Linked DNA regions of Homo sapiens: region 1 is linked to region 2. Evidence: fine-mapped expression QTL. A gene starts in region 2. The other region holds a variant in brackets. All regions are shown on one strand. Distances are from middle to middle.

What was found. PIP is the estimated chance that this variant, and not a neighbour inherited with it, causes the effect.
Region 1: its variant is the best candidate, but not a certain one, in a credible set for the expression of TRIM32 in whole blood (INTERVAL, PIP 0.52).

The regions. Positions count from the first base shown.
Region 1 is chr9:116,718,219-116,722,613 of GRCh38, forward strand. The region is part of intron 16 of ASTN2 (astrotactin 2); the gene reads right to left. Among named protein-coding and RNA genes, the nearest start is that of TRIM32, 33 kb to the left of the region's middle. The variant C/T (reference allele first, on the strand shown) is at 2,088.
Region 2 is chr9:116,684,983-116,689,377 of GRCh38, forward strand. TRIM32 (tripartite motif containing 32) reads left to right here and starts at 2,323. Exons shown (of 2, transcript NM_012210.4): 1 at 2,323-2,399. The region is part of intron 16 of ASTN2 (astrotactin 2); the gene reads right to left. RefSeq lists enhancers at 1,990-2,309, 2,750-2,799 and a silencer at 2,380-2,579.

The DNA of each region.
Region 1 (4,395 bases), 33 kb after region 2:
GAAAAAAAAATCAGCAGAAGGCCAAGTGACAAAAGGATTGCAGCTTGTTCTAGGACTTGAAGGAAGGTCAGTATGACAAAACGGCAGAAAGCACGGAGACACACAGGGCTGAAGAGGTTGGCTGAGGACAGATCAGAACTGTTAGAGCCCTGAGGCCATGGGAAGGAATTTGCAAATTATCCTCACGGCAGTGACAAGGCACCTAGAAGTTTTAATCCAAGGAATAACATGATGGGATCTCTATTTTAGAAACATCCTATAATGGTTAATTTCATGCGTTAACTTGGCTGGGTTATCAAACTATTTGGTCAAATAGTATTCTGGTTATGTATGTGAGGATGATTTTGGAGAGATTAACATTTGAATTGGTAGACTGACTAAGCAGATTGTCCTCCTTAATGTGAGTGGACTTAAACCAGTAAGTTGAAGGCCCCAATAGAACCAAAAGGTTGACCCTCCCACCTGAATGTCTTGAGCTAGGACATTGGTTTTTTCCTGCCTCTGGACTCCAATGGAAACATCTTCTTTTGTTGGATCTCAAGCCTGCCAGCCTTCGGACTGGAACTATAGCATTGGCTCTCCCACTTCTCAGGGCTTTGGATTCACACTGGAATTACACCATCTGCTCTCCTAGGTCTCCAGCTTGCTGACTGCAGATGTTGGAACTTCTCAGCCTCAATAATTATGTTAGACAATTTATTATAATAAATCTATATCATCTATATCTATATTTACATATCTATACCTGTATCTGTACATATATATATATATATCTGCCTATAAGTCTCTCGCTACATATCCATCCTGTTGGTTCTGTTTCTCTGGTTTTGTTATCCTGGCTAATACACATCCTCAGGGCTGCCGTGTGGTTAGGATTCAGGGAGGCAGGGTAGATGCAGGCTGACCAGGCAAGAGAACAAAGCTGGAATCCAGACAAGCTATGATGGTGACTTGGAATAGGGTGGCAACAGTGAGGAAGAAAAAAGTGGGCAAATTTAAGAGTTATTTGAGAATTAAAATTGACAGAACTTGAAATGGTTTGGAAATGGGTGGCTGAAATCAGCAGAAGACCTTCTCAGAAACTAAGGTACAAAGGGAGAGGGAAGGGATAGTTAGCCAACTCCCACCACCACAGACAAATGCAGCCAGGCTGAGATTTTTCACCTTGGATAAAATTAAGGAGTTAAGATTCAGAGGTGACTGTCCTGGGATCAAGCAATTTGAAGTCAGTGCTCTCAGATCTTGAGAGAGGGTGTTGAGAAGGATTCCTAGGTTTCTGGTTCTGCTTCTAAACAGATAATGGTGCTTCTCACTAGAACACTAGAAAAGTATTAGGTTGTGTGGAGTGGAGTTTGGGCAGGCAAGAGAACTAGAATGATAGCAAATATCAGAGGAAAGCTTGATGTTGGAGGTATAAAGTAGAACTCATCAGTGTGGGGATTACAACAGAGATCATGACCATAGAAACAAGTCTAGAAAGAGGGGTCCATAAGACAGGCTCCTGTGAAACTTCACTTACTAATGTTGCAGAAGAGGATGAACCTGCAGAGGAGACAGAGATGCAACAGTCCAGAGGGGAAGTAGAAAATCATGAAGATCTAGTATCACCGAAACAAACACAGAAAGTGCCTCACACAGGAAGCAGACAACTTTGTCAAAGCCTACTGAAAGGTCAAGCAAGATGGAACCCGAAAACTGTCCGCAGGATATTGAATCACTGAGGAAGTAAACCAAGACCTTGCAGGTCTCAGACCCTAAGAACAACTCCGTTCATATCTTGTTGCCATCTTAAAAGCAAGTTCCCTCGGGAAACTGAAGGCTCTGGAGAATTATCCAGCTCTCATCAGCCCCTTGGCCACATCTGTCCTCAAAGAAAAGGCGACAGTTGAATAATCATTCCCTTCTCCTCCTCCACCCACAACCCCTGAGATGCCTTTTAAACAGCCAAAAACTCCTTTAAAAAGTAGTCTGGGAATGTTTCAGCTGACATTCAAAAGCACATTGTAATTCAAATGGAAGTGCAGAAATGCAATCCCTTGGACAGTCTAGGAAAATGATAATAGAGATAAGACACCTTTTAAAAGTGG[C/T]GACATGTATTTATCTGTGGGGACATTTCTATACCATGGACTCTCCCAATCTAAACTCAGGAGCAGTGCAAACTTCACATAGAGAATGTCCTTCCACAGGGGTCACCTAGGCAGTACACTTGGAAAAGACATGTTAATTGCATAGCATTCTTTCACTTCTAGCCTCTCTTTATCTCGCCATTTCTCTTTGTGGATTTTGGTGTGCCTTTGTCTATCTCTCTTTGTTTTTCTGTCTCCTCCTCCCCTCCCCTCTTTTCTCTCTCTCTCTCTCTCTGCCTTTCTTTTCCTCTCTTTCTTGCTCTAGCTCTCTGTCCCTCCCTCTCTCTCACACACACACACAGAATGAACAATTCTTTCACATACACACATCTGTCACCTTCCATAGTCAGTTTCTCTATAAAAAAGAAGCAATTAAAAATTCAAAAAACTTATTATATTTCTAATTCCTGCATCTATCACTATCCTCCCTAAGTAGAGAATGACAGGGGATGATAAAAGTTACAGATTCCTTTTGATATCTCCCCAGTCCAGTTCCACAGCTCTTTCCCTTCACTGGCTCCAAGCCTGTAGCTAAACTCACTGAGGCCCCTCCCAATCCCAGGACAATCTACCTCTGCCCTTGATCCTGGGTCACAACGATGACAAGGGATGAGAGCAAATTAGCAAGCCCCACCCCTGCCCACACACATGTGTGCCTTCACGCACATACATACACACAAACATACACACCTGGGAACACAGTAATCGAAGTGGATGTGGCAGCCTTGGGTGGAGGGCATGGGTTGGATCAAGATAATTAGGCCCTCAACTCAGAGCTGGATGGGTCCATCCATTGCTCTATTTTCTTATTCCATCTATACAATGACTTTGCATTTTGCATATGGAAAAACTGATCTTAAAGAATGAATCACTTTGCTCAAGATCACACATCTGGGAAGAGGTAGAGCTGGGATTTGAATTGAGATCCATCTGATTGTAAAACCTGTGCTTTATCTCCAAATGAGAAAGTCTTTATCCAAGGTAGCCACAGGAAGGGTGACTTTATACAGTGAACCCTCATCATGATATAAAGCTCATGTATCATGATCACAGCTAGGGAGAATGCGTGAATATCAAGTCAAAGGGTGAAATGGAGCCCCAGTGGGAAGAAGGTAGTTTTTTCAAAATACAGGGATATCAAGAGCACAGAAGCATGTAATGAAAGTATTATGCTAGAGGAAGAGACTCAGAAGTTCACACACTGCTTGGGGGAATGGCACGGGAGCAGAGGTGATGGCTAAAGAAACCTGACAGGCTAAACAGCTTCCATGCTAATCATGTCTGGAACCTAGAGCTTCCAGGGATGACTTTGGCTGCTCTAGTTGTTTCCTAAGGCCCAGTTCTTCCTGCATTAGATTCTACCTTATTGACCTGTTCGGTGTTCCAGTCCCCTACGGACTACTGGAAAGCTCAGAATTCCCACCTGGTGATATAAAACTCTGCCTTCCTGCCTGGAGATCTTACCAGTGGTTATTGGCATGCCCAGTGCCCCCTCTGGAATCAACATCAAAAACTAGGTCTGTTATTCTAGCTTTTATTTTTGCCCTATTACAGGGAAGAAAATACAGAGGATCTAGACCACTATACTTCCTTTCTGTGTCTAGAATAGACATTACCAACTGATCATCTCAATGATCCCAATAACTTACACACAGTGTTCTAGACAAGCCATTCCCTAGTTGATCAGAATTGGCACATGAAAGCTAGAGAGCATAATATGATAGTGACTGGGTATTCCAACCAGCCTGGAAATGTTGGCCTCCTCCCTCTTCCCAGCTGTCTACCAGTGGATTTTTAAAAGTCTGTAACAAAAATGATGAAATATTGGGATACTAAGGCATGCTGGTAATGAACAACGTAGGAACAGAGCCTATATCTTCTTTATTTGGTGCCACAACATCTGACGCACACACAAAAAAAAATACAGAGAAAAAGCAGTTGGGAAATGTTCAGACAATCAATGAATAACTATGACTTTATTTTCCCACACAATGTACCTTTAGAAACACTTAGGGGAATGAGAGTAAAGTAAACTCCTCATGGGAAATATTTTAATCAGGCACATTCACCCCATCTCCCTTGGCTTTCCAGTAATTTCCAGTGGTTTCCCCAGATCATAAAAGTGGCCAGGGTCCCATCATTATGAAACCTGGGAAGGCTAGGGCATTTGTTTCTAATATCCAGGGACACCAGAGCTAGGGTGAAGGAAGAACTGGGCTGAAGTTTGGATTCAAATACCATCTTCTTGGCCTTTTGCCTCTGTAAGTTA
Region 2 (4,395 bases):
CTATCCCAAAGCAGACCTCCTTGCCTGGGTACTAGATTGCCTTTGTAGGACTAACATTAGCCACAAGATTAGAAATTGCGGTTTAGGAGTCATGCAGCTGGAGGTTACAAGATGCTGAGCCTCCCTAAAATGCTTCTGAGATCAGTGCTTGAGATATTTTGCAGACCCTGCACTTGATGGATCAGCTGGCACCACCCAGATCAATAAACTCACTCATCTGATCTTGTGGCCCCCCCACTCAGGAACTGACTCACTGCAAGGAGACAGCTTCGACTCCCTATGATTTCATCCCTGACCAACAGCGCTCCTGGCTCACTGGCTTCCCCCAACCCACCAAGTTATCCTTAAAATCTCTGTTCCCCAAATGCTCAGGGAGATGACTTGAGTAATCATAAAACTCCAGTCTCCCGCACAGCTGACTCTGCGTGAATTACTCTTTAACTATTGCAATTCCCCTGTCTTGATGAATCAGCTCTGTCTAGGCAGTGGGCAAGGTAAACTCCTCAGGTGGTTCCACTGATATAGGTGATTTAAGTGTTAAATAAAAATCTGTTACATTAAAATGCTGAATAAAGAGTGTTTAAAGCACTCCACAAAGATTATTTTTTAAATGCCTCTGTGTAAGAGGAATTCTAATATTGTGCCAGGATATGTCAAGCTATAAGATAAAAATTGAGTGCATTTCCTAGAATGCTTATTCTACTCTAAGATTTTGTGAGAGGTATAATAATTCATTTAACTGGTAATAAACATTAAAGAAGAGTCAAACACTGATTTTTGTTTTAAGGGAGAAGAGAGATTTTTTTTTTTCAAGACACTTGCTTGAGCTAGATCCCCAGGAGTATTTTTAACACTCCTCTGTAATTAGGGAAACATCAGTATGTCTGTATTGATACATATACACACATATATAATATGTATATATGTAAGACTATGAACAGTCCTAAATTTATACTTTGGGCTGATAACTGTGGTTTTCAGGAAAAAAAAAAATTTTAAACGGGTGCAAAGTCTCCCCAACTGGTCTAAGTGAGAAATCATTTGGCATTACCTCTCCCTTATCCCCTACCTGCTAATTACAATTTTTCAAATATAGTTATCATTAAGTGCAAACTACCATAATCTTGGCTTATCTTCATGGCAAACTTCAATTAGAAATTTAGAAAATGGGGAGAAAGAGTAAACAAGGTTAAGAGAGTGGGTTCTCAGATAGAATTGGGTACAAATTTGGGCTCCAACACTTAGGTATATGTGGCCTTGTGTAACCACCTAGGTTACACAACAGGTGTAGGTTAACCATCAGCTGCCTTATCTCATTAGGTCCTTATGAGGATTTAGTGAGCTATGCACCTGAAGTCCTCAGCTGTAGCCAGACAGCAAGTGTTCAAAGATGTTAGTCATTGTTTTTGTTTATTGTTTTATCATTGTGCAGGGTCACATAGCTAAGGGGAATTTCAAATCCAAGTCCATCCTACTTCAAACTCCTTTGTGCTCCTAAGCTGTACAGTATAGTCACCTTGGAGAGTAGGTGATTGGCCCCAAACTACTTCAGGGACTGCAGGTCGTGGCCAGCCAGTCCTGTATCAGACCTCGTCCTTGCCAGATGCCTAGTGCCCCAGATTCCCTCAAATCTCAGGCCAGATCACCTCCCACCTGGTAAGATTCCTCCACCTTCACCCGAGCAAAACTACACTTGGTTTGGGTTCCCGGGTACCTTCAGTCTGCAGGGACAGGGGCTGCAGAGTGTACTCCCCAAGTCTGCCTCTGCTGTCGGCCTCCCAGCTGAGTAGGCAAAACATTCCTTTACAGAGCAATGTGTTCATGGATAAACTTGTCTCTAGTGCAGCTCTCTGTCAGAGCACAGAACATGAGGCCAAAGCACTGCCCTTCCTAGGGAGTCCCGGTTCTCGACTTCCCCAGAATGGAAGTTTGATTTTTCCGTTGGCCCATTTCTCAGATGGAAAAACAGATTCAGTAAGGTGCCAACGCTTTGCTGAGGACTACCCTGGAGGCTACCGTTTTGTGAAGGGGTAGACATTGAGACTGGAGTCAGATACGCATTCTGGCTTATCTCCTGACTTACTGAGTGAACTTGAGCAGGTCCCTTTCGCCCATGGGCGTCGGTTTCTTCATCTGCACCAAGGAGACGGAAAACTGGATTACGTGTCGCTAAGGCCCCGGGTTCTCAGAGGAAAGCTCACCCCTGCAGGGCCGCCTTGCCCCGCGCGCTTGGGGCCAGCTGCACGACAAGCCCCAGCATGCTGGGGAGGCGGGGCTCAGTGACGGACAGGGAGCTCTGCGAATTGGCGCCCGGCAAGGGGTGCTCAACGGCGCGTGCGCAGAGGGAGGCAGGCGGGTGGGCTGCCGGCGGTGGACTCGTCGGAGCCGCGGGCGGTCAGGTAGGGGGCGGGAAGGAGGGTTGGGGACTGGGGACCGCGGCCGGAGTCGTGGGCCGTGGCTCAGCGGCCAGGCGGGGGAACGTGCCGGCGTGCAGCGGCCGCGCCCGAATGGCAGGGTGTGGGGACCGGATCTGGGGGGGGCAGGACTAGGGTGGGGGTGGGGCTGCGAGGGGCAGGCTCGGGAGGGATTCGTGGGGCTGAGGAGATCCGAGGAGATGCAGCTGGGGGAGGGGAGCGAGGGGCTCTGAAGAGATTTGCGGTTGCAGCATCTCGGGAGGTATGAGGTAATGTCGGGGCCCTGAGGAGGAACGGGGTGTAGCATGTGGGAGATGGGAGGGAATCAGGGCCCTGGAGGGACCTGGGTGCAGAATTTCAGAAATATGAAGGAACTGGGGGGCCCCGATGAGATTTGAGGAAATCTGGGGGCGCTAGGCATCTGGCAAGGACAGGGTCTGAGATGATAGGAGCAAGGTCTAGGGCGATCCTAAGTGCTATTGAGAAAGGGTTTTCGGAGTGGGCTGAGGGTGAGATTGAGGGGGTGGGGTGAGTTCTTGAGGGACTCTATCTTGTTAGCAGAAAGAAGGGAGCTGGCTGAGGTGTGAAGGCAGCACATGACATTCAGTGCATAAGAGGAAGGAGCAGGGTATGAGGGCAGCACAGTGCCCGATGGAATGCAGGAGATGGGGGCTCAGATTGAGGGAGAGCAGAAATCTGGGGTGAGGAATTGGGGCGTTGAACTGAGGTGCGGGGCTGAGTGTGGCAGAGATTTGGAAATAGGGATTAAACGATCTGAGTCCGAGGGATTTGGGGCATATGAGTGAGGAATTGACGAGGGTTGCAATATACAGCCCCAAAGATTGGAATTTGGAATTGTAAGAGGGTTGGGGACAGGGTTTGGAGAGGATTGAATCGTGGGGTGGAGATGTCCTAACTGGGCTATAAAATCAAAGGACCCTGAGTAGATTTGTGGATTGGTGTCTTGGGCTGCTAAAGAGATTTTCCTTAAATCGCTGCATGGGAGACAGAGGGAGTTCAGGGGACCCAAGGACCTAAAAGTAATGTATGAAACTGGATGAGTATATGAAGATGAGCAGAGTTCAGGTGCTGAGGAACAAAGTGATAAATCTTCAGTTCAGATAATCCTGAAGGAGTGTGGTAATCCCTGTGAAGGGCAGAATCTTCTTCATTTATTAAACAAAGATCCGTTATCATGAGGCAGGTATGGTATTGCCACTAACTCCATTCTGACCACCGGTCCCCCGGCCCACTGAAAGTGGTAGGCTTTGGGGAAGAAGAAGTGGAACTATTCAAGGTCATCTGCCTAAGCCCTTTTTCCCTGTACCCCCAAGCTACGATAGCAGATAGAAAGTGAGACCTCCAGGGGAATGAGTGGAATAATTTATCCTATATAAGATCCATTACAGCTTGAAGGGGCAGTGGCTCTGTGAGTGAGGTGTTTGGGCTCGGAGACAGACAAAACAACAACAACAACCACCAGAAAAAAAAAAGGGAACCCTTAGGTATTGAGCATTTAGTCCTGTGCTAGACTGTAAAGCAGTGGTTCTTAACCAAGTCTGGCTTTGTCTCCTAGGAGACATTAGGCAATGTCTGGAGATGTTTTTTGGTTGTCACAGGGTGGGGGATACTACTGGCCTCAAGTGGGTAGATTAAACATTAAACATAATGTTTTATGTTAAACATTTGACAATGTGTGGGATACGCCCTTCCCCCCCGCAGTAAGGAATTATCCTGCCTAAAATGTCAGTAATGCCAAAGTTGAGGCACTCTGACCTAGAGTCAGATACCCTGGGTTCAAGTCCTAGCTCTATCTCTTCCTGACTTTAAGTCCTAGCTCTATCTCTTCCTGACTTTGTGGCCTTGAATGAGTTACTTAACCACCCAGTGCCTTGGCTCTTCATCTGTAAAATGGGGTTATGATAACAAGACCAATGTCACAGAATTGTTGTGAGGATTTAGTGAAGTAAACTAGCATGCC